3 linked regions of the Homo sapiens genome follow. The protein of the gene in region 1 purifies or fractionates together with the protein of each later gene. This does not show direct contact. Each region holds a gene or a part of one and is shown in the gene's direction. Other genes may lie near its edges.

The links.
Region 2: the proteins of RRN3 (region 1) and POLR1E purify together in Homo sapiens (co-immunoprecipitation; 2 studies listed by BioGRID and IntAct, with this or other methods). This does not show direct contact.
Region 3: the proteins of RRN3 (region 1) and IL17RD purify together in Homo sapiens (co-immunoprecipitation; 2 studies listed by BioGRID and IntAct, with this or other methods). This does not show direct contact.

What each region holds. Positions count from the first base shown.
Region 1 is NC_000016.10:15,058,549-15,063,771, reverse strand, and holds the end of RRN3 (RNA polymerase I-specific transcription initiation factor RRN3), read left to right. Parts: intron 1-488; coding exon 489-576; intron 577-1,866; coding exon 1,867-2,028; 3' UTR 2,029-3,739; downstream 3,740-5,223. UniProt on the Homo sapiens protein: Required for efficient transcription initiation by RNA polymerase I (Pol I). Required for the formation of the competent pre-initiation complex (PIC).
Region 2 is NC_000009.12:37,495,117-37,503,599, forward strand, and holds part of POLR1E (DNA-directed RNA polymerase I subunit RPA49), read left to right. Parts: intron 1-52; coding exon 53-160; intron 161-773; coding exon 774-870; intron 871-2,974; coding exon 2,975-3,108; intron 3,109-5,723; coding exon 5,724-5,805; intron 5,806-6,596; coding exon 6,597-6,728; intron 6,729-7,926; coding exon 7,927-8,086; 3' UTR 8,087-8,483. UniProt on the Homo sapiens protein: Component of RNA polymerase I (Pol I), a DNA-dependent RNA polymerase which synthesizes ribosomal RNA precursors using the four ribonucleoside triphosphates as substrates.
Region 3 is NC_000003.12:57,161,758-57,170,276, reverse strand, and holds the start of IL17RD (interleukin-17 receptor D isoform a precursor), read left to right. Parts: upstream 1-4,923; 5' UTR 4,924-4,990; coding exon 4,991-5,116; exon of another isoform or gene 5,117-5,309; coding exon of another isoform or gene 5,310-5,351; intron 5,352-8,519. UniProt on the Homo sapiens protein: Feedback inhibitor of fibroblast growth factor mediated Ras-MAPK signaling and ERK activation. Regulates the nuclear ERK signaling pathway by spatially blocking nuclear translocation of activated ERK without inhibiting cytoplasmic phosphorylation of ERK.

The sequences.
Region 1 (5,223 bases):
TTAGTTACAGCATTTACATAGAGGGTTGTTTTTTTGTTTTGTTTTTTTCTTTTTTTTTTTTTTTTTTGAGACAGAGTCTTGCTCTGTCTCCCAGGCTGGAGTGCAGTGGCGCGATCTCGGCTCGCTGCAAGCTCCGTCTCCCAGGTTCAGGCCATTCTGCCTCAGCCTCCCGAGTAGCTGGGACTACAGGTGTCCGCCACCACACCCGGCTAATTTTTTGTATTTTTAGTAGAGATGGGGTTTCACCGTGTTAGCCAGGATGGTCTCGATCTCCTGACCTCATGATCTGCCCACCTCAGCCTCCCAAAGTGCTGGGATTACAGGCGTGAGCCACTGCACCCAGCCAGGTTTTTTTTAAATGTAATTATTTAAGCTGTAGTTTTCACTTCTTGGTTTTGGGTAATAGATCTTGTGAGAAAAGATCCAAACCAATTTTGACTTCTGCCGAAGTATTTAACTTGACTTTGAAATGTGATCTTTGTTGACAGGTCAAAGAAATTCATTGATCCTATTTATCAGGTGTGGGAAGACATGAGTGCTGAAGAGCTACAGGAGTTCAAGAAACCCATGAAAAAGGTCAGTTTGTGATTGATTGAGCACACTCTCGGAATCTCCTTTCTGGTTCCAGGTCACAGTGAGATAGTAAGTGGCAAGTCGTTCGTGCGTGTAATCCCCGCACTTTAGGGGGTCAAGGCCAGAGGATTGCTGGAGACCAGCCTGGGCAACACAGTGACACCCTGTTTCTACAAAAATTTTTTTAATTAGCTGGGCGTGGTGGTGCACACCTGTAATCCCAGCTCCTCTGGAAGCTGAGGTGGGAGGTCAAGGCTGCAGTGAGCTGTAAATGCAGCATGGCACTTCATCCTGGGCAACAGAGCAAGACCCTGTTTTCTTTAAAAAAGCACACCAAAACCGTGTCTTACTCATTCTGCCTTTATAAAATTCCAGGCCCAGGTTTTGTTGTTATTTAAAGAGTCTATGGCTTTTTTGGATAAATTGCTTAAACCAGACACTTCACATACTGACATGTGAGAAGCGAAGGTTAATTACAAATTAGCTGAATGAATTTAGATCTTTGCCACTTGCGCATTCTTACCAAGTAACAATCTCCAGTTGACTCATGTTGAAATTGCCCCAGCAGTTTACATTAGTTTTATAGATCTTCATGAATGGGTGGTGAAGACGCAGGTTGCAACATACCCTCCAGGTCACATGAGGTGGAGCTGAGACAGTTACAGTTAGAGAGGAAAGTTAGAATCCAGTAATAAAGAATTTCGCTGCTCTGTTGCTTGGGAGCACATTTGTTTTCTCATTAAAAGCAGCTTCAAGATGGCTTTTTTGTTGTTGTTTTTAATAAGTAATCATTGGAAAGCCCCTTTCATCTTTTTCTTTATGTTTCATTTGTTGAGGGGCGTGTAATTCATTCACATTGTGTTAGGTACAAGAGTTCCTAACACTGGGCAAGAATGACTCGTCATGTTTCCTGTCCCCATTGAGCTTCAAATCTGTTTGCAAGTCAGACTTGAAACAAATGATTACAATGTGTGATGAGCAGTTATGTGGGTATGTTGGTAAGAAGGAAGTGCTTATCAGAGGGAGCTTTTGTTCTGTTCTGTTTTTCTAGAGACATGGTCTCGCTATGTTGCCCAGGCTGGATTCGGAACTCTTGAGCTCAAGCAGTCCTCCCACCTCCACCTCCTGAGTAGCTGGGACTACAGGCGTGTGCCACTACACTGGCTTTCTTTTGAAATTAAGATATTTTCTTCACCATCTTTACAAACGTTAACACCTTCCTGAGGAAGGAATTGTTGAAAGCTTTTCAGTCAGCACTGGTGATGTTACTGATGATTTCTGATGTTTCTGCAGGACATAGTGGAAGATGAAGATGATGACTTTCTGAAAGGCGAAGTGCCCCAGAATGATACCGTGATTGGGATCACACCAAGCTCCTTTGACACGCATTTCCGAAGTCCTTCAAGTAGTGTGGGCTCCCCACCCGTGTTGTACATGCAACCCAGTCCCCTCTGACGGCAGAAATTTGTGACTGAGATGTGACATTTGGGATTCCCCATCACTTGTCATGCCCTCAGCACCCAGCTTGTGCCATTGGGCATTGATGGCATTGAACTAGAGCGAGTGCCTGCCTCGGCTGTGGCACTTCCAGGTTCGACTGAATCAAGCATCTGAAGACTGGGTTTTTTTGTTGTTGTTGTTCCCCTTACAGACAAAATGAAGACTATCATGTGCAATCTTTTACAGTGGGGTTGATGATACATTTGGAAGGATTTGCTTGTTTAATATGTACATTTTTTGTGTTAACAGCTTTTTGACACAATTACTGGGTAATTTCTAATATAGGCAGCAGACTGTTTTACGGGTTGCTGTTTTAACATGGGTTTTTGTCAGATCCATGGTCTTAGGACTTGACTGATGAGCTTTCAGTGAAGAATCCTCTAAGATAAAACTTCTATTTAAAGACTTTAACTAGAAAGTGTTTATTTTGGCTACATTGTTCACCTTCTGCTGTATTGGTATTTGTCTGTTGGGATTTCAAGGGAGTGTAGAGAAGACAGAAGGAAAGCTGAGAGCTGGCCCGACATGGTCTGGGACACAGAGTTGGAGCTGGCACTGAAGATCTCCAGGGACTTCAGAGACCAATAAAAGCCCATAGGGAAGAGAGAGAGGATATAGGGAAACAGAATCAGATGTGTAATATACTTGGCACAGCGAAAAAATGGATTTAAAAGACAAAAATGGAGGTCCAGGTAGATGTAATTCACACAGACTGAAAGTGAGTTCGGGCTTGTGTAAAACACATGAGATTGGATTTGACCCCTTGGCTCTCAAGTGTCCCCTTAGATCTAGAACTGCTCCTTGGTGGCCATTAGATCGAGTCAGTTTTGATCTGCATCACTTAGTTATTGGGAATTTCTTTGTTGGAAACAGGAAAATTTTTTTAGATTATTTGGTGTACGGTTTTGCTCACAACAATAGGTGGAAGTTGCTAGTGCAGTCTTGGTCTGATGGCTGTGTGCATCGCACATTCGGCTTGGTGAAATCCTTCTCTAAAGCCTCTTTTTGTATTTTTATAACTAAACAGAGGAAGTCTTCAGAAGACCTCGCTTTAAAACAAATTTGTGCAAACACTGCTAGAGTCATTTTGAAGCTCAAGCATTTTCACTTTGTTTCTTACATGTGTACTTTTTTGTTTACTTGTGAAAATGGCCATCTTTAAGCATATTTATTTTCTGCCACTTTATTTAAAGGCAAGCAATATTTTCTTGATCATAAATATTTTGTAATGAAATACTTCCTCTTTTCCAGGGCTTTGTATGCACTTGTATAATTACATTGATGGCAATGTAGAGTTTGAATTTCAGTCTGTAAATACTTTTTTGGAAAATAGAAATTTTTATTGCTTTAAAGTTTTGGATATGGGTGGTTTTCTTTTCCGGGTTTGGTGGAAAGTAATTTGAGAACTTTAAGGTTGTCTTTTTAACTGCTGGCAAAATGTTGATTTTTTAATATTAGATAAAACGAGTAAACGAAATTCCCCAGAAATTAGTAGTAAGTGGGGTCTTTGTGGGTTGGGAAGTAGTTTTAATGTAGAAAGACATTTACATATAAGTCTGTTTAATTTCAAAGGAGTTTGTGAAAAAAAATCCATGGTGAAAATGAAACAATGACATGGTTAATCTGGAACTTACGTTCTTATACCAATAAAAGGTACCTCAATACATGTTCTTTCAATTTCTGTTTTGTTTTTTTTTTTTTAATTTAATGTATTAAAGCATTTTGCAGTGGAAAACTCCTGAGGCATTGCTGTTGAAGAGGGAGAAATAGTGCTGGTGTGGCGGGGAGCTTGATGGAATTCATTGCATGCCGGGGTGAGGATGGTTTCCGTGTGCACTATATGAAGTATCCGCGACTCTCCTTAATCACACCCAGCAAAGAGTGATTGAGGCTTGAGCAGGTCCAAGGGAAGCAGACACTTCTTTCAAAAAGTTACATGCTTTGAAGGGACATCTATGGGGAAAAATACTGTGAAATCTCCTTATAAATTACATGCCAACAATGGGAATTTTTCCTTTCACTAAAAAGCTGTCAGTTGTAGGAGTCTCCAGGGTCTGTCCTTTTGTCTGTGTGCTCTGGTTTGGTCTTCCTTGATGAGAAGTGGCTGAATTTTTACAAGTCAACTTACCAAGTGCCATGGGCTTCCTTTCCTAGCTAGCTGTTTGACGTTGAGCAAGTTACCTAACCTCTCTGAGCGCTAATTAAACTGTAAAATGGGAATAAGATACTAGTGTAAGGCTTTAAGGATTCGATGCATGTACAAGTTAATGGCTGTTGTTTTCTTGCAAGAAAGGAAGCACTTCCATGGGAAGTTTTTTTTGGTTAAAGATAACTTCTATTTCTTCCATAATACCTACCTCCCTGGTACCAACTTAGATCTGAACTGGAGAGGAGGAACCAGCGTGTTTCCCTTGCCGGGCAGTGCTTACGATGGTGGTTCTTAACCCTGGCTGTGCCCTAGAATCAGTCCCTTGGAGTGCTGAGAAACTAAGGATGCCCAGGCTCACGTCACACACCAACTCAACCTTTGATTGAATCAGTCTCCAGAAGAGGGGTCTGGACATGGATGGTTTTTAAAGCCCCCTGGTGATTCGAAGGTGCAGGCTGCCTTGAGAACTGTTCATTGGTGTACAACTGCATACTTTTCTTGTTTCAACTAATTGAACATCCAAAGCTCCACCATGTTTTCTTCCATCAAATGCTTTTGTGTGTTTCAGTCTGACTCTGGATGGTTGAGTAGGATTTATAATGTATCTAATAATTTGGGGCCAGGTGTGGTAGCTCATGCCTGTAATCTGAGCACTTGGGGAGGCCAGCAAAAGGATCTCTTGAAGCCAGGAGTTTGAGATCAGCTGGGGCAACATAGTGAGACCCCCATCTCTACATTAAAAAATTTGAAACACAAATTGGGATCCTTTCACTAAATATTTACTAAGGTTCTGTATAATGTTCATCATTCTTTTTTTTGAGACAAGAGTCTCACTCTGTCACCCAGGCTGGAGTGCAGTGGTGCAATCACAGCTCAACAACTGCAACCTCCGCCTCCTGGGCTCAAGTGATCCGCCCACCTCAGTCTCCTGAGTAGCTGGGACTACAGGTACGCACCACCATGCCTGGCTAATTTTTGTATTTTTAGTAGAGATGGAGTTT
Region 2 (8,483 bases), on another chromosome or scaffold:
GGGGAACTGGAAACAAACAGGGTGATACATGGATTGTTTCTTTATTGAAAAGCTCTGGTCAGCGATGCTATCCACAATGACTTGCAAGATGACTCCCTCTACCTTCCTCCCTGCTATGATGATGCAGCCAAGCCTGAAGACGTGTATAAATTTGAAGATCGTATCCTTCTTGCAGTAGAAAAGCTGCCTTATTTCACAAGTTGAGATGTTTGCACGTGTGTGCAGTCAGGTTCTCTGAGGGTGTCTGTGTTCTGTGACATTCACAAGAGCTCCATCCAAACCTTTGCAGTTGCTCAGTGCTCTTGCCAGGAGGTTAACTTGGCTTCCTCACTAGCTGAGGGACCGGCCCCTGGGATTCAAATCCATTCCTCAGCAAAATGCCAAATGCCCACAGCTTAGACCTGTGGGGCTCACTCTCCATGGAGAGTCAAAATAAGAGTTGAACCAGCCAAATGCCCAAAGTCTAGGGCAGACCACTTTTGTTGAAGGAAGGGTTGGAGCTTAGAATTTCACCACCCAAGGGGTCCGGTCAGAAGGAAAATGCCTGCAGTGGCTTTGTGATGAGAAAAAGCAGAAAAGCCTGGGCAGGGAATGGGCTCTGGGCTGGGAGTCGGAGAACTGAGTCACCAAGCTCTGCCCCTATGTGATCTGCCCTGTGTGATCTTTGGCTCTCTGAGCCTGTTTCCCTGTCTGTGAAATGCCACTGCTATGAGATGACCTAGCTAGTTGGATGTTTCTATTTTGGTTGGATTATATTCTTGACCTGTAACTAGTTCTTTCCCCTGCGGAGTATGAAGCTCTTCAGAGCCCATCTGAAGCTTTCAGGAACGTCACGTCAGAAGAAATACTGAAGATGATTGAGGAGAACAGGTACCCTGACTTAAGCAGATGGGGATTCTGGGGAGTGCTGTTGGGACCCAACAGTAGTCAGACACTGTGCAGGTCCTCTGGGCGTCAGTCAGTGAGGAAGTGTGTCTGGAGCATTGGACATGAATGAGCCAGTGTTTTCTTGAATGTTTGGGCTTTCAGGAGCTGTGGGTCACATTCGAGGGAGAGGGCTGGTCTCTGAGTCCGTGGGACCTGCGACAGGGCAGAGGGTGGTGAGGCCTTCTACTCTGGGGCTGGGAACTAGAGCTGGCCTGTGTCACCCAGTGTCATGCTGGTGCTGATTGTCACTGGCAGGGCCCAAATGCTGGCCTGGGAATGGGTGCTGGCCAAAGTGATGGTTTCTCTGTGATGATATGGTAGGCAAACTTTTCTAACATTAAATTTATGTATTTAAAATATTGTATATTTTAAATAATTCAGAGATTATTTCCTTCTCCCTCCCCTTTCCCATTAAAACAGCTTCTTTTATGATAGTGAGTTTTTTTTGCTTTTGAGTTTTTTCTTTTAATAATTTTATTTTGATAAAGAGTTGTCAATCTGAGGTTTGTTCCTCCAGTTTTTGTTTTAAAATTTTACTGGTCATTGAAATCCAGTGCCTTGGAATTATTATTATTATTTCTTTTTTTTTTTTTTTTTTTGCTTCAAAGATTTATTTCCAAAAAAGAGCTCATTACTAGTTCATAGTTGTCTTAATGTGATTGTGACTCAGGGGCAGGTGCAGGAACGAACTCTGAGCGGGGAGTCTGAAAACTGAGTCCCCGAACTCTGCCCTTATCTTCCCTTCTTGAAGCCTCAGTTTTTCTATCTGTAAAATGAGGCATCTATGAGATGATCTTGAAGAGCCTTTTTATCTCTGTGAGTCCAGGGTCTTGCTAGCAGTAGAGCAGTGCCTGAAAATAATAGTTAGCATTGACTGAGCCTTAACATTTTTGCCAAGCACTGTTCTAAGAGCTTTACTGGCATCATCTCTTAATCCAGAAAAAATGCTCAGGAGGAGAGTACCTGTACTATCATTGGCCCCAATTTATAGATGGAGAAACCAGGGCACCAGATACCAAGAAACTTGCCCCGCTGGGCACGGTGGCTCACACCTGTAATCCCAGCACTTTGGGAGACTGAGTCGGGCAGATCACCTGAGGTCGGGAGTTCAAGACCAGCGTGACCAACATGGAGAAACCTCATCTCTACTAAAAATACAAAGTTAGCTGGGCGTGGTGGTGCATGCCTGTAATCCCAGCTACTCAGGAGACTGAGGCAGGAGAATCGCTTGAACCCAGGAAGCGGAGGTTGCGGTGAGCCAAGATTGCGCCATTGCACTCCAGCCTGGGCCACAGAGTGAGACTCAGTCTCAAACAAACAAACAAACAAACAAAAAAAGAAACTTGCCTAAACCATTAAATGGCAGAGAAAGGATTGAAACCCAGGCAGGCTGACTACAGAGTCTATGCTCCTGACTATAAAAACAGAGGTCAGAGGTTAGCAAACTACAGCCCACATGCCAAGTCTGGCCTGCTGCCTGTGAGTAAGTAAAGTATAAATAAAGTTTTATTGGAGCACAGCCCTGTTCATTTACGTAAGTAATATCTGTGCCTGCTTTCGCACTACGATGGCAGAGTCAAGTAGTTGCAACAGAGGTTGTATGGCCTCCAAAGCCTAAAATATTTACTGTCTAGCCCTTTATTCATCCCTGCACTGAACCATGTTCTCCTATTATAAGGAGTGTTGAGTGTACTGGCCCTTCATCAGCTGCTTTTGTTCGTTTGTTTTTTTTTGTTTCTGAGACAGGGTCTTGCTCTGTCACCTAGGCTGGAGTACAGTGGCGCAGACAGCTCACTGGAGCCTCGACCTCCTGGGCTCAAGTGATCCTCCCGCCTCAGCCTTCCGAGTAGCTGGGACCACACACATGTGCCACCATGCCGGCTACGTTTTTGTAGAGATGGGGTCTTGCCTTGTTGCCCAGGGTTTCATCAGCTGTTGAGTGCGTCGGGGTGAGAGGCGCCTGCTGTTCTCGTTGTAAGAGGGAAGTAGTTCCTGACAGAGCCCATCTTACCCTGACACAGGCCTCCTTTTCTTTTCCTTGTTTTAGCCATTGCACCTTTGTCATAGAAGCGTTGAAGTCTTTGCCATCAGATGTGGAGAGCCGAGACCGCCAGGCCCGATGCATATGGTTTCTGGATACCCTCATCAAATTTCGAGCTCATAGGGTAGTTAAGCGGAAAAGTAAGTCTATGATAAACATTTTATTCTAATTGTTTCCAGTATATTATTTGTCTGTAATTCTTAGATGAGTTCTGATGAGAGAAGAAAATGGATATGTCTGTCCAAGTCTTTACTGTCAACTGTGAGATTCATTCTGGTACTGCTGACATGTCGAGGGGACTTGCCAGGCCCCTTTTTCTCTCTGGATCTCCCATTTTCTCATCTGAAAATTGGGGCCACGTTGGATTATATGATAGTTCAGGGTCCTTCCAGAGCTAACATTTGCTACTTCTATTCTGCATGAGGCAAAGTAGAATATCCAGGTCAAATAAAAGGAAAACTTTAAGGGACTGTTAGAACAAACATCAGCCACGTGTGTGCGTGTGTGTGTGTATATATAGAGAGAGCTTATGAGTTACACAGATGTATCTTGAAGGCTTGTGGCAGGTTTGTGTTGTGTCAGCTTATTTCTAACAGGAGAGAGTCAATCTGATGGTAACCCAGTGTCACCTGTAGCTAGGATCCTTTGCGGGTCACACCCTCATACCTACCCAGAGTTGGAAACCCAGAAGATGTCTGTGGTTTTAGGCACAAGGTGTATTTAGTTGTTGTTACTGTGATTGGGCATCCAGTAGTCTATACTCCTGTTTTTCAGTATAGTCATGTGTCGCTTAATGATGGGGATATGTTCTGAGAAATGTATCCTTAGGCAATTTTGTCATTGTACAAACATCATAGAGTATATTTACATAAACCTAGATGGTATAGCCTACTACACACCTAGGCTATATGCTATAAGCTGCTGTTCCTAGGCTGCAAACCTATACAGCATGTTACTATACTGAATATTATAGGCAATTGTAACACAATGGTATTTGTATATCTAAATATATCTAAACAGAAAAGGAATAGTAAAACTATGATATTATAATCTTACGGGACTGGCTGGGCATGGTGGGTCATGCCTATATCTCAGCACTTTGAGAGGCCAAGGTGAGAGGATCACTTCAGGGCAGGAGTTTGAGACCAGCCTGGGCAACATACCAAGACACTGTCTCTACACAAAAATAAAAACATTAGCTGGGGTGGTGCACGCCTGTATTCCCAGCTATTTGGGAGGCTGAAGCAGGAAGAGTGTTTGAGCCTAGGAGTTCAAGGTTACAATGAGCTATGATTGCACCACTGCCTCGGTGACAGCAAGACCCTGTGTGAAAAAAATCTTATGGGACCACTGTCACATATGTGGCCTGTCATTGACCAAAACACTGTAATGTGGGACATGACTGTATTTGCTTAGTCATGCTTTTTTTGTTGTTTTTTTGTTTTGTTTTTGTTTTGTTTTTTTTGAGACAGTATCTCGCTCTGTCACCCAGACTGGAGTGCAGTCCCATGATCTTGGCTCACTACAACCTCCATCTCCTGGGTTCAAGCAATTCTGCCTCAGCCTCCCGAGTAGCTGGGATTACAGGCGGGCACCACCACGCCCAGCTAATTTTTGTGTTTTTAGTAGAGACGGGGTTTTTCCATGTTGGCCAGGCTGGTCTCGAACACCTGACCTCAGGTGATCCACCCTCCTTGGCCTCCCACAATGCTGGCTGGGATTACAGGCGTGAGCTACTGCACCCAGCTTGTATTTGCTTAGTTCTTTTTTTTTTTTCTTTTTTTGAGACAGAGTCTCGCTCTGTCGCCCAGGCTGGAGTGCAGTGGCTCGATCTCGGCTCCCTGCAACCTCCACCTACTGGGTTCAAGGGATTCTCCTGCCTCAGCCTCCTGAGTAGCTGGGATTATAGGCGCCCGCCACCACACCCGGCTAATTTTTGTATTTTTAGTAGAGACGGGGTTTCACCATGTTGGTCAGGCTGGTCTCGAACTCCTCACCTCATGATCTGCCTGCCTTGGTCTCCTAAAGTGCTGGGGTTACAAGTGTGAGCCACTATGCCCAGCCAGTTGTTTTTTGTTTTGTTTTGTTTTGTTTTGTTTTGTTTTGTTTTGTTTTTTTGAGATGGAGTCTCACTCTATTGCCCAGGCTAGGGTGCAGTGGCGCAATCTTGGCCCACTGCAACCTCTGCCTCCTGGGTTCAAGCAATTGTCCTGCCTCAGCCTCCCAAGTAGCTGGGATTAGAGGTTTGCGCCACCATACCTGGCTAATTTTTGTGTTTTTAGTAGAGATGGGGTTTCACCATGTTGGTCAGGCTGGTCTTGAACTCCTGACCTCAGGTGTTCTGCCTGCCTCGGCCTCCCAAAGTGTTGGGATTACAGGCGTGAGCCACCGCGCCTGGCCACTTAGTTCTTATTTTCACATTCCAATTCCACCTTTCCCCCTCTCTCCCTGAGCTTTCAGCACAATTTTTGTTTTCTAAGGTCATGTTAACTCTGGGTCCTTAGGCCTCAGGCTGTGTTTTCTTGTCATTGCCCCATCACCAGCATCTCTCGTGCAGGGCAAACTGCAGGCTGCAGCACACCAAGCATGTTTTCATTTTGATGTGGCTGTTCTGCTTTGTGTGGGCCCTGCTTCTCTTACCACCTGGTTCTGGTCATTGCAGTGGCCCAGCTGTTGGCCTTTTCTCTTAGCTCATGGTTGAGGTGTGGCCTGAGGGTTTTGAGAGAAAATGATCAAACTCAACTTTGTGTTGTAGGTGCTCTGGGACCTGGAGTTCCCCACATCATCAACACCAAACTGCTGAAGCACTTTACTTGCTTGACCTACAACAATGGCAGGTCAGGGGGTGGTTGCTGGGATTTTTCTTGTGCAGGAGAAAGTAGGTGGGGGTTGGGAGTGAGGAGCAGGGGCTTGGACTCAATTCCATGTCCACGGAGATGCAGTGCTGAAAAGACTGCTGCCATTTGGAAGGCTCCTGGGGCCCCAGTAAGTTTAGCAAATGCTAAATATGACATACTCTGCCCTTCTTAGAAAAGTATTACCTTTTGGGAACCTTAGAAGCTCTGGGAAGTCCTACAATAAAGACTTGTTTTACTTCACATACTTTTGAATAGCCCTTCCCGATGTCTCACAGAGCTGGTGTTCTGCGGAAAGGCAGCATTGCAGAAAAGGGCAGCCCAACTCGGTGACTCTGGGGAAAGACCCGCAGGCCCTGCCCCTGGGCTTCCTTCCTGCCATTTGCATGGCGTGTGTTTTCTGCTCTTGAGTGTGCTTGGAAGAATCAGCACAGCTGATTTCGGGATGATTGTTTTCCCAGCAGCCCTGCTGGGCAGGCGGGGACAGACTCACAGGGCCCTCACCAGCTCAAAGCGCTAGCAGTGCCCAGGTAGAGTGTAGGCCCAGCTTTCTCTATCTGCCTCAGAGGGAAACATGGACTGGCACACTGCTCCACTGTGTGTGAGGCCCAGGAACCTTGGAAGGGCAAAGTCACCCACATTCCTTTTCCTTTCCTGAAGTTGGGAAGACATTCCGTGCATATGAGAATAGGATTGGATGTTCTTATTTTGCTTTTGGAGAAATTGTCTGAGAGTTTAATTTTGTTTCTCCTTTATTGCCACTGATTTTCTAGATTACGGAACTTAATTTCGGATTCTATGAAGGCGAAGATTACTGCATATGTGATCATACTTGCCTTGCACATACATGACTTCCAAATTGACCTGACAGTGTTACAGAGGGACTTGAAGCTCAGTGAGAAAAGGTGAGCACAACAGAATAAAGAGCTCCCTGCAGGGTGTCTCGATGTCTTATTTCTGGTACCACTGGAAAGCATGAGGCACCACCAAGGGAACTGAGGATGTTTAAATGTGGGAACAACTTGGAACTAAAGGACTATTTTCAATGAATGAATCATTGACTGAATGAGCAACTAGACATTACTGAGTGCCTTCTCTGTGCTAGATAAATTATGTCATTATCTCACTGATTTCCCTAGAAAACAATTGAAGAATCAGGCTCAGAAAAGTACGTAACATTCTCAAGGTTACACAACCAAGAGGGGAGTAGTTGGCCTTGAGACCTGAGCCTTTCCATAACATTCTGTTCTGAATAACCAGGCAGCCTCCATTCTCTGAATTGCTGTCACAGGGGAGAGGGATTCTGTATGGTTCTGAGGAGTGCAGCTCAGGGTGGAAGTTGTAGGACAACCCAATTTGAGCTTAGTAAGAAGAGCTTCCTCACAATCAGATGGAAGGGTTTGCCAGGGGAACCGCTGGTTCCAAGGCCAGGTGGAACTGCTGTTTGGCAGGGATTTTATGTTTGCACTTCTCTGACCCAACTGGGAGAGCTGGTGGTGGAGGTGACCTTTTAGGCTCCATCTAGCCTTGTAGAGGAGATTCAGACAGTAGGGGCAGAGCTGCCCAGGAACCTGAACTGTGAGGTCAGCTGATCTTTGTCAGTGATTTAGGGGCATCTGACATCCAGTGGCCCAGAGGGTGTCTAGGAGAGCCTGTGAACACACCTCTGTCTGGACTCTCTAGCAGTCCGTGGAGGGACTGTTCTGAGGGCTGTCCACAAACTGTGTTCCCACAGGCAGTGAGGCTGAAAAAAAGAGAACAGGTACTTGGAACCTGTCAGATTCTAGCAAGTGCTCAATCCTGGTTGCTAAAAGTTTGGTTATGGGAGGTAAAGAAAGTTGCTCACGGGGCTGTAGATACCCTGGTTTTTCATCACCCATATGGATCTTTTGAAGGGCATTAAAATGAAATTGGCTGTCTGATGGTTCCCAGCGGGTGAGGGGACCTTGCCTGCCTCTCTGCCAGGGGCTTTGTGCCTGCTGGCAACCTTTGGGATTCTGTCTTTATGGCCTGGAGCATGAATGTGCTGCTACCTTTTGCCAAACCTCCCTGAACAGTCATGTTGAGGGGTCTCTCCAGTTCTTCTGTTTATGTCTTCCTTAGGATGATGGAGATAGCCAAAGCCATGAGGCTGAAGATCTCCAAAAGAAGGGTGTCTGTGGCCGCCGGCAGTGAAGAAGATCACAAGCTGGGCACCCTGTCCCTCCCGCTGCCTCCAGCCCAGACCTCAGACCGCCTGGCAAAGCGGAGGAAGATTACCTAGACGCATGCTTTCCAGACAGGGCGTTTTGGCTGCATCACAGCCACTGGCTGGTCCTATTCATTTCCATTTTTATGTATGTTTTGAAAAGAAAAGGTCCGGGGATGGTGGCTCACACCTGAAATCCCAGCACTTTGGGAGGCCGAGGCAGGAAGATCATTGAGCTCAGGAGTTTGAAACCAGTCTGGACAACATAGGGAGACCCCATCTCTACCGGAGGAAAAAAAAAAGAGTCAGGCCTGGTGGTGTGCGCCTGTAATCCCAGCTACTCGGGAGGCTGAGGCAGGACGATTACTTGAGCTTGGGAAATCAAGGTTGCAGTGAGCTATGATTGTGTGGCCACACTCCATCCTGGGTCACAGAGTGAGACCTTGTCTCAAAAAAGTAACATAAGGAAAAA
Region 3 (8,519 bases), on another chromosome or scaffold:
ACGGGAAGTGGCCGTGGGCCGGTGAATTCCGTGTAGTGGCCAAGGTACGCACCGCTCCAGAACTATGGGGTGGGCGTCCTGGGATTTCTGGGCGCAGGGTTGGGTCCGCCGCCCCAGGTTTTCTGTTGTCCGCCGCCCTGGGTCTCTGGGCTGTGCAGGAGGCGCCAAGGCTGGGTTTAGGAAGGCCATGTTTTTGGCGTCCTAGACAGGAAGAGTCTGGAGGAATCAGCTGAGTCTGGGGCCTTTCGTCCCAGGCAAGGCGGTCCCAGGCCAGGCGATCGGGGTCCGGTTTGAACCCCAGCTCTGTGACCGCGAGCAGACTTCCCCTCGCTGAGCATCAGCTTCCCCATCTGTGCAGTGGGGATGATGACGCCTACCCCATTGGAGCCAAGACTGCCAGGTAGCCTGATTGACATCCAGGCAGTCTTGTGGGGTCTCAGGGACTAAGGGCTTGCAGGTGGGTACCAGTTCTCCACATACTGCTCCCTCCAAAGCCTGGGAAACCTTGCACCCTCAGCCCTCTGGGAGACTGGGGTCAGGGGTACAGTGACACTCTTTACCTTTAATGTCTTTATTAATACAGAAAACATACACTAATTTCTCACAATACCAAAATAAATTAGAATTTGGGCCGACTGCTTCTAACACTGTTCATTAAAATAGTATTTAGTTATTCCCTGCTCAAAATGATTCATGATACAAATTACTTCCACCATCACTTTATCTTTTTTTATGTTTCACGGGATAATTTGACCCCTAACAAAATCCAATCCTTGCGTTAAGGATTTTTCTTATCTGGCTAGGTTATAATTAGAGTGGGAAAATATATTTACATTTCATCAACAGCTTATTTTAAGGTGATTTTATCTGTTTAATTCTCAGCTTTGTTCCAAAGAGGGGGAGGTGGTGACAGTCTCTTGCCCACTGAAGCGTGCCAGACAGAGTGCTAGGCATGGGGGCAGAGGTGAATCAGATGACAGCCACCTCTCACCACGAGGAGTGGCTGAAAGTGTGACTGGACTACAGGCAATCCTGGCCTTGGCAGGTGAGACCAAGTGTTGTATTGAGGGAGGGTTTCCCTAGCTCATCTTCTGGTCACCTCCACAGCTGAGCTCCACTGTGGCCTGGAGGAAACTGTGATCCATGAAAGGCATGTGGGGCCTGGTCCCCTCATTTTAGCTCAGCTTCCAGGACAGAGAGGTCCACTCCCTGCAGCCTTACAGCTATTCTGAAGGGTTGGGATAAAAAGAGGAGATGGAGACTGGGAGCGGCGGCTCACGCCTTTAATCCCAGCATTTTGGAAGTCCGAGGTGGGTGGATCACCTGGCATCAGGAGTTCCAGACCAGCCTGGCCAACATGGTGAAACCCCACCTCTACTAAAAATATGAAAAATTAGCCAGGCATGGTGGCAGGCACCTGTTATCCCAGCTGCTTGGGAAGCTGAAGCAGGAGAATCGCTTGAACCTGGGAGGTGGAGGTTGCAATTAGCCGAGACCATGGCATTGCACTCCAACCTGGGCAACAAGGGCAAAACTCCGTCTCAAACAAACAAACAAACAACAACAAAAACAACAACAACACAAAAAAACCAGAAAGGAGGAGATGGGAGAATCAATGGGAAAGACCAGAATACAGAGAATGTTGCCAAATGCCAATTTACAACCTTAATTTCCTGACCAGATTTGACCCTTTGGTGTCTGTGGCTCTCCTGCCACTCACATACATGCTGGTGGCCTTCCTAGAAAGGAAATAGGAGGGCCTCCCCATCCCTGGTCCTGAGGGATGTCATTCTAGGCATGTTTTAGACTGGACGCTTAAGGCTTTTCCTTCTTGTGCCCTCCACATGGCTTCAGGAAAGCTTGTGCTCTCTCTGAACCCTGCAGCATGTTTTCAGAGGCTGTCGGTTGCCAGATTCTGCAGTGAGCTGTGGATGGGAGGGAATTCAATAGTGGGTGGGTGTGCAGACAGAAAGGGAGCAGGAGTGGGGCTCTGCCTTCCCTGTCATGCAATCATATGGTGACATGAGTAAAACCCAGGGAGAAACAGTTTTCTCTAACCAATGTTCTCCTTGAGGTTCTCTTTCTCTTGTAAGTGCTAAGTACTGCTCCTTTTCCTGGAGTCCAATTCCTGAAAGAGGACAAATGGGCCAGGAGTGGTGGCTCACGTCTGTAATCCTAGCACTTTGTGAGGCTGAGGCAGGCAGATTACCTGAGGTTAGGAGTTCGAGACCAGCCTGACCAACATGGTGAAACCACGTCTCTACTAAAAATACAAAAAATTAGCTGGGTGCAGTGTTGCGCGCCTGTAATCCCAGCTACTCGGGAGGCTGAGGCAGGAGAATCGCTTGAACCTGGGAAGCGGAGGTTGCAGTGAGCCAAGATTGCATCACTCACTCTAGCCTGGGTGACAGGGTGAGACTTCGTCTCAAAGAAAAAAAAAGAGAAAGAATACAAATGGCCAACAAATACATAGGAACATGATCTACCTCATTCGCAACCAGAGAAGCCAATTAAGATGGTGATAATACCATAATGAACAGTTTGACAATTTTAAATGTGCATAATCCAGCAATTCTGATTCTAGAAATGTATAAAATCATTGAATCAATGTGTCAAGGTAAGTGTGTTAGGGTATTTTTGAATCACTGATTCTAACAGATGTCCCTTAGCATGGGGTTGTTTAATAAGTTATAAAGCATGTATAGGCTGGAATGTCACATAGATTAAGGAGCTGGTCGCCTCATTGTTTCCTCCCTGTTTCACCAAAACCCATATGGTCCTGGCCTCATCTCAGCCCCTGGCACCCCTGACTCTCATGGCCAAACGCTGGACATCCTTGCTGTGGGGGCTGAGAACAACCCAGGGACAGTACCAAGAATGTGAGGGAGGGTAGGGAGGCACTGAACCAGCAGCTCCTCCAAAGGAGTGATGTGCTTCCTGAGGTCTATTCACAGAAGGCTACTCCAGAACAGCCTTCTGTGGATCCTAGCTATTCTGGTGTCTGAAGAGGGTATGGTAAACCTCACTGGGTCTGGCTGAATTCCTGAATTCCAGGCAGTGAGGTAAAAAAAAAAAAAATTCTGCCCAGCATCTGGGTCTTGAGGTGGATGCTGTTGTTTGGGGAACCCAGCACCCATTCTCCCTCTCCCTGGCAATAATGTCAGTGTTCCTTTGGGCAAGCACTGTTTCACACTTCCAGCCCCTGAAGTTCAGGTGAGGCTGGCTCTACTCCTTGGTTCTAGATGTAGCTACTTCCAAGCAAATCCCCAAGACTTCTGCTAGCATTACCAAGAAGAGTTCTCTTCCTCCACTTAAGCCCTCCAAGGACGTGTGGGCAGGGTGGTGGAGACACAAGCCACAAGAGAAAGTGCAGGAATCCTGTGTTAGCAGTGGCTGAGCTTAGGCCAGGCCAGAGAAGGAGAGGGAGGGGATTCTGGGCCCTGGAAGGAGAGTCATATAGAGGAGGCTGCCCTGTTGAATGGACGGAGGTGACAATTTCCAAGGTTTCCTGAGGCAAAAAGACCAAGATAAGGCTGGGGCTGGGGGGAGTTCTGTGCAGCAGGAGCCAGGTGGTAAAGACAGAGTGGAAGAGAAAGCCAGTATGGATTTTATTCTAAATGGCCTTTGCATAAGAGCCACCATAGAACAGTTTTATTTATTGATTTTATTTTTATTAATCCTCCTCCAAACACAGAACACATAATTTTACTGTTTTTTTTTGTTGGTGGTGGTGGTGGTAGGTTTGTTTGTTTGTTTGTTTGTTTGTTTGTTTTTAGAGACAGGGTCTTACTGTGTCACTCAGGCTTCAGTGCGGTTGGCAGGATCATAGCTCACTGTTACCTCTAACTCCTGAACTCAAGCGATCCTCTAGGATTGGCCACTGCACTCAGCCTAGAGTTTTAATTGGGATAAGTCAGTAGTCTGATTTGTGTTTTTGGAAGATAACTTTGGATCCAGGCTGGAGAAATGTATCGGACACGGGGACAAAGTCAGAAGTAGAAAAAGCCCTTAGGAAGAGGAGGTGGTATTCTTGAGGAAGGGGGTAGTGGAGAGGGACAAAGTGGGAGAGTTTAGGTGCTCAGATAAAAGGCAAAGCGCTGGGAAGAGTGCGGTGAAACTCTGGATAGCTTGGGCTACTCCACTTCTCTGAGCCTCAGTTTCCTCTTCCAAACAGAAATAATATCCACTTCATGAGGTTATGTTTGACAAGTGTAGTAGCTGAGAGTATTGTTTTTAGTCAGGTCTGGATTGGATCTCAGGTCTGGCAGGTAACAGCTGTGTGACCTTATGAGAGTCAGTTAATGATAGATTGTAGCCTTTATGGAGCACTTGTTATGTTTCAACCAACAGAACTCTCCCCAGACTAGGATACTTATTCTAGCTTCCAGGAGGGTGAGGGGGACGGGGGGTTGTGGTGAGGAAGTATTGTGGAGACAGCAAGCCTTTTGTCCAAAGTCCTACTAGTAAATGTGGAGCCAGGATTTCTCTGTCACGTTCCCCTAACTTTTCTGCGCCTAAAACTGGGATAACAATAATACACTTCCTTGTGTGGTTGGGCGTATACAGAAAGGGGTCTGGCACATAGCAGGTGTTTATTAAATTATTATTAAAATTATTATTATTACATTCTTTGTGTTTTCCTCAGGTTTTGCATAGAGTGAGCATCACTTGGACAAATCCTTTGGATTAAAAAAAGATCTACTAAGTGAGGGGGAAGAAACTGCGGCTGCCAGAGTCTCAGTGGGGGCTTGGGGGGCGTGACCAGAGGGGCGTGGTCTACGGGGGCAGGGCCACAACTGGAGGGCCAGGCTGTGGGGGCGGGGCCAGCACACGAGGACTGAGGGTGGGGGCGGGGCCCGGGCTGGCAACGCATGCCCAGTGCGGTCCCCTTCGCTGCCGCCGCGGCCGCCGCGGCCACCGCCCACTCGGGGCTGGCCAGCGGCGGGCGGCCGGGGCGCAGAGAACGGCCTGGCTGGGCGAGCGCACGGCCATGGCCCCGTGGCTGCAGCTCTGCTCCGTCTTCTTTACGGTCAACGCCTGCCTCAACGGCTCGCAGCTGGCTGTGGCCGCTGGCGGGTCCGGCCGCGCGCGGGGCGCCGACACCTGTGGCTGGAGGGTAAGGCGAGGGCGGCGGGTTTCTTGCCGTCGCCAACTCGCGGGGGACGCAGCGCGCACAGGTGCTCGCGGGGAGGCGAGCCCGCGCCAACCTGTCTGCTCTTCGCGGGGTCCGCGGCCGGCCTGGGTCTCACTCCTCCCGCGCATCCTCCTGGTTTCCCTCCCCGGACGCGTGTCCTCCGGCCCTGGCCGAGATGAAAGCGGCTGCCCGACCCCGGCTTTGTGTTGCTAATGAGGTGCGGCCGCCGGCCGGGGTCCCATTCAGAGGGCGGGCGTGAGGGGCGGCGGGGCTGGGCCGGGCGCCCCACCCTTTGTTCTTGGCCCGGGACCTCCTTCGTCCCAGGGCTGCGTGTCCCGGGCTGGGATCCCCCGAGCCACCCGGACCGGGTTGCGCTTTGGAGAGGGAAGGGGGTATTCTCCCGGACTTTCAGTCCACAACCCTGCTAAGGCCCGGGCGGCCGGAGAGGGGACTTGGAGCACCGGGGAGGGATGCGCCCCGCTCTTCTAGTAGCTTTGTTCCTCCTCGCCTGGGGCCGTCACCCCACTCCTACCCCTCCTCTGACTCCGGGACCTCCTGAGAAACTTCGCCTCCCGGTTCAGCCCTTCGTCTTGTGAAGGTCTCGCGGCTGATATCCTCCTTCCCTGCTTCGAGTTGCGGATATTTTTCCGCCAAAGGGCCGCGTGGGTGTCATCTGGGTGAGGTGCCTGAGACGAGACTGGAGAGGTGCCCAGACTTTCGCCGTGTGCATTGAGCCGTCTTCGTGGAACCGAGCGCTCCTTTGACACTGTCTGGGCGATGGGCGCGGGTGATTGCCATTCCCCTCTCAGCTTCCCTGCTCCCTACCTGGGCTTCTGGCCTTGGGCGGCCCCAGAACCTGGAGATGATGTCCGTCTGCCCCGAGTCTCCCACCGAGGCCCGGGTGGGCCCGGCGTCAGGGCACTCACGGCCTTAAGCTTGTGGAGAAAACGTAGGCTTTGCACTCAGGCAGCAGGGACATGACCTTGGCTCTGCTCCTGGGGAGCCATGAGCCTCAATTTCTTCATATGAAAAATGGGATGAAATGAGAATTTCCTTAGTATTGCTGGGCTGAGGGATAGGTATGGAGTGGTTTGCTTAGGCGAACGTTGACTCAGCCTCTTCTGGGTGGCTCTAAACAGCCTCAGCACAGCCAAAACCTAGGACATAACACTCCCTTAGGCACGCAGGCTGGTGCCTCCAAGCTCACTTGCCCCACAGTCCCAAGAAATGTGGTGCAGAAAACCAGGTGTGAGCCAGACAGCTGGGATGTCTTCAGACTCAGTAGCTAAGCTATGGAGACGGCTATGACCCCTGCTCTGCCTCCGCCCCCGCCACCCCCTTCCCCCCCCGCCCCCCCGCCCCATTAGGCTCTGTCATTCCTTCCTAGTTGAGTAAAGCATCACATTTTCTTACTGTGTTCCATTTCAGTAAAACATTACTGCTCTTGTTTTATTGTTTAAAAAAATTTTAGTAGCTAGCAAGTTTCCTCAAGGAGGATCTCGTGTTGACTTAAGGATCCTACTAGAATTTTGGATTTAGACTCCTATTGGCTTTTGAATGACTACAATATCACAGGCGTTTTATTTTGAGTGTTCATGTGATGGCGTAGGTAAATCAGTCCGATTCACTGTTTTGCTGCAGTTGCCAAGGTGGCTTCTTATGCCACTGTACAAAACTCGTGAAGTTTCCATGCTGTGGGGTATGGTAGTGCCCTGACGGAGCCAGGCTGGTGATTTTCTTCTACCTGTGCGAGTGTGTTCTCCTCTCCCAAACCTGCACCCTCATAAAATGGTGGCTCTGTCCCAGTCACCTCACACTTATGCTGACGTTTTCTCCACCACAGCCCCTAGTTGGGGGTGACTTTTCTCAGCTGCTCCTGCCTTGGCCCCACCAATCGTTTCCTTGGGTCATCCTCATTCGCCTCCTGGACGATCGTAGAGGCCTCTGGGCCATGTTCCAGATTCCAGGCTCATCCAGGCTGATACATGGTTCCTTGTCTCCTGGATTTGCTGCTTGGTGGATTTCATGGACCCAGTTTCCCCACATGCTTTGCATTCCCACCCTTTCCAGCCTCACCCCCTACCCTTCTCATCCTGCTCCTAACTCCGGATGGATGCCCTCTGTGCTTCCAAGACATGCTTTTCCCTCCTCCCAGGATGCCTTTTCCTCCCTTGAGAATTCCTTGCCTATCTTAAGACTCAGTTCAGGTGGTACCTCCTCAGGGAAGCCCTCCTGAATGCCATGCCCCTTGCTTTACCTTCTCATGCAGGTCCTTGCACTTTAGTCTCATCAGACAGCTTTGTCAGTATTTGTTCACTTCTATGTCTTCAGACTAGTTTCTTTAGCCAGGCACTGAACCTCATCTTGGTGGCGTCAGAGCCCTGTAAATATTGGCTGAACCAAATTAGACCCTGCTGCCTTCCTGCTAAATCCTGTATTTCCTGATAGATTTTAAGAAGTAGAGGCAAAGATCAGGGCATCAAGGTCCATTGTCTTTGCACATGCTGTTCCTGCCTGTGTTCCTTTACACCTCTGCAGCTTCCTTTCTCGGCCCTAGCATCACTTCTGCAAAAAATTGTCCCTGTCCACACCTCCCTAGGTCATGTCTTCTAGAAGTTGCTCTGTCAGGGAGTCAGCTAGGAAGTACTGGTACACAGTGACTAGAGTATTTGATTCATGTTTGGGTCCCCTACCAAATAAGAGGTACTTAGTCCATAGATGTTGGCCTCAGCTCTAAGGTTGCTTACAGTGGGGCTGTAGGAACATAAAAGGATAAGGGTCGACTATATGTGATGCAAATCAGAGGAGGCTTTCTGTGGGCCTGGGCCATACTCAGAACCTGAGAGGGGGCAGCAAGGTGCAGCACCAAGTCCTGAGAAACTGGATTTAGGTGCTGGAGCAGAGCTGAGCAAATGACCCCCTTGATCTCCAGGCAACATTTGTTTCAGGAACCCTTGCCCTTGCAGGAATGTGTATTTTTGCAAGACTTGCAAGGTGACTACAGCCAGCCAACCCTCTGCAGCCCTGCTAACAGACCCTTCGGGGCTGCTCCCAGAGGAGCCATGGGCTGGCCTGGTTTAAGTGGTCAGGTTTCACAACCTCCCCATTATTAGTGGGGCAATTAAGAGGCTGATACCATCTTGAACACAGGTCAGTGTTTTAGAAATGAGTTGTGGGCACACTTCCTCAACTACTTAAAAAAAATTCTCTTAGGGTCCTTGCCAGGTAAGGTTGCTCTTTGAGTAATAAATACTGTGTTCACACAGAAGTAATGATTTGTAAAACCTCCAGAGGGACCACACCATCCTCATTTACACTGGCTCTTGCTTCTAGAGTGGAATGGTTTTGTTTGCAACTAGAAGCAAGTTTGGTTCATAACTTTAAT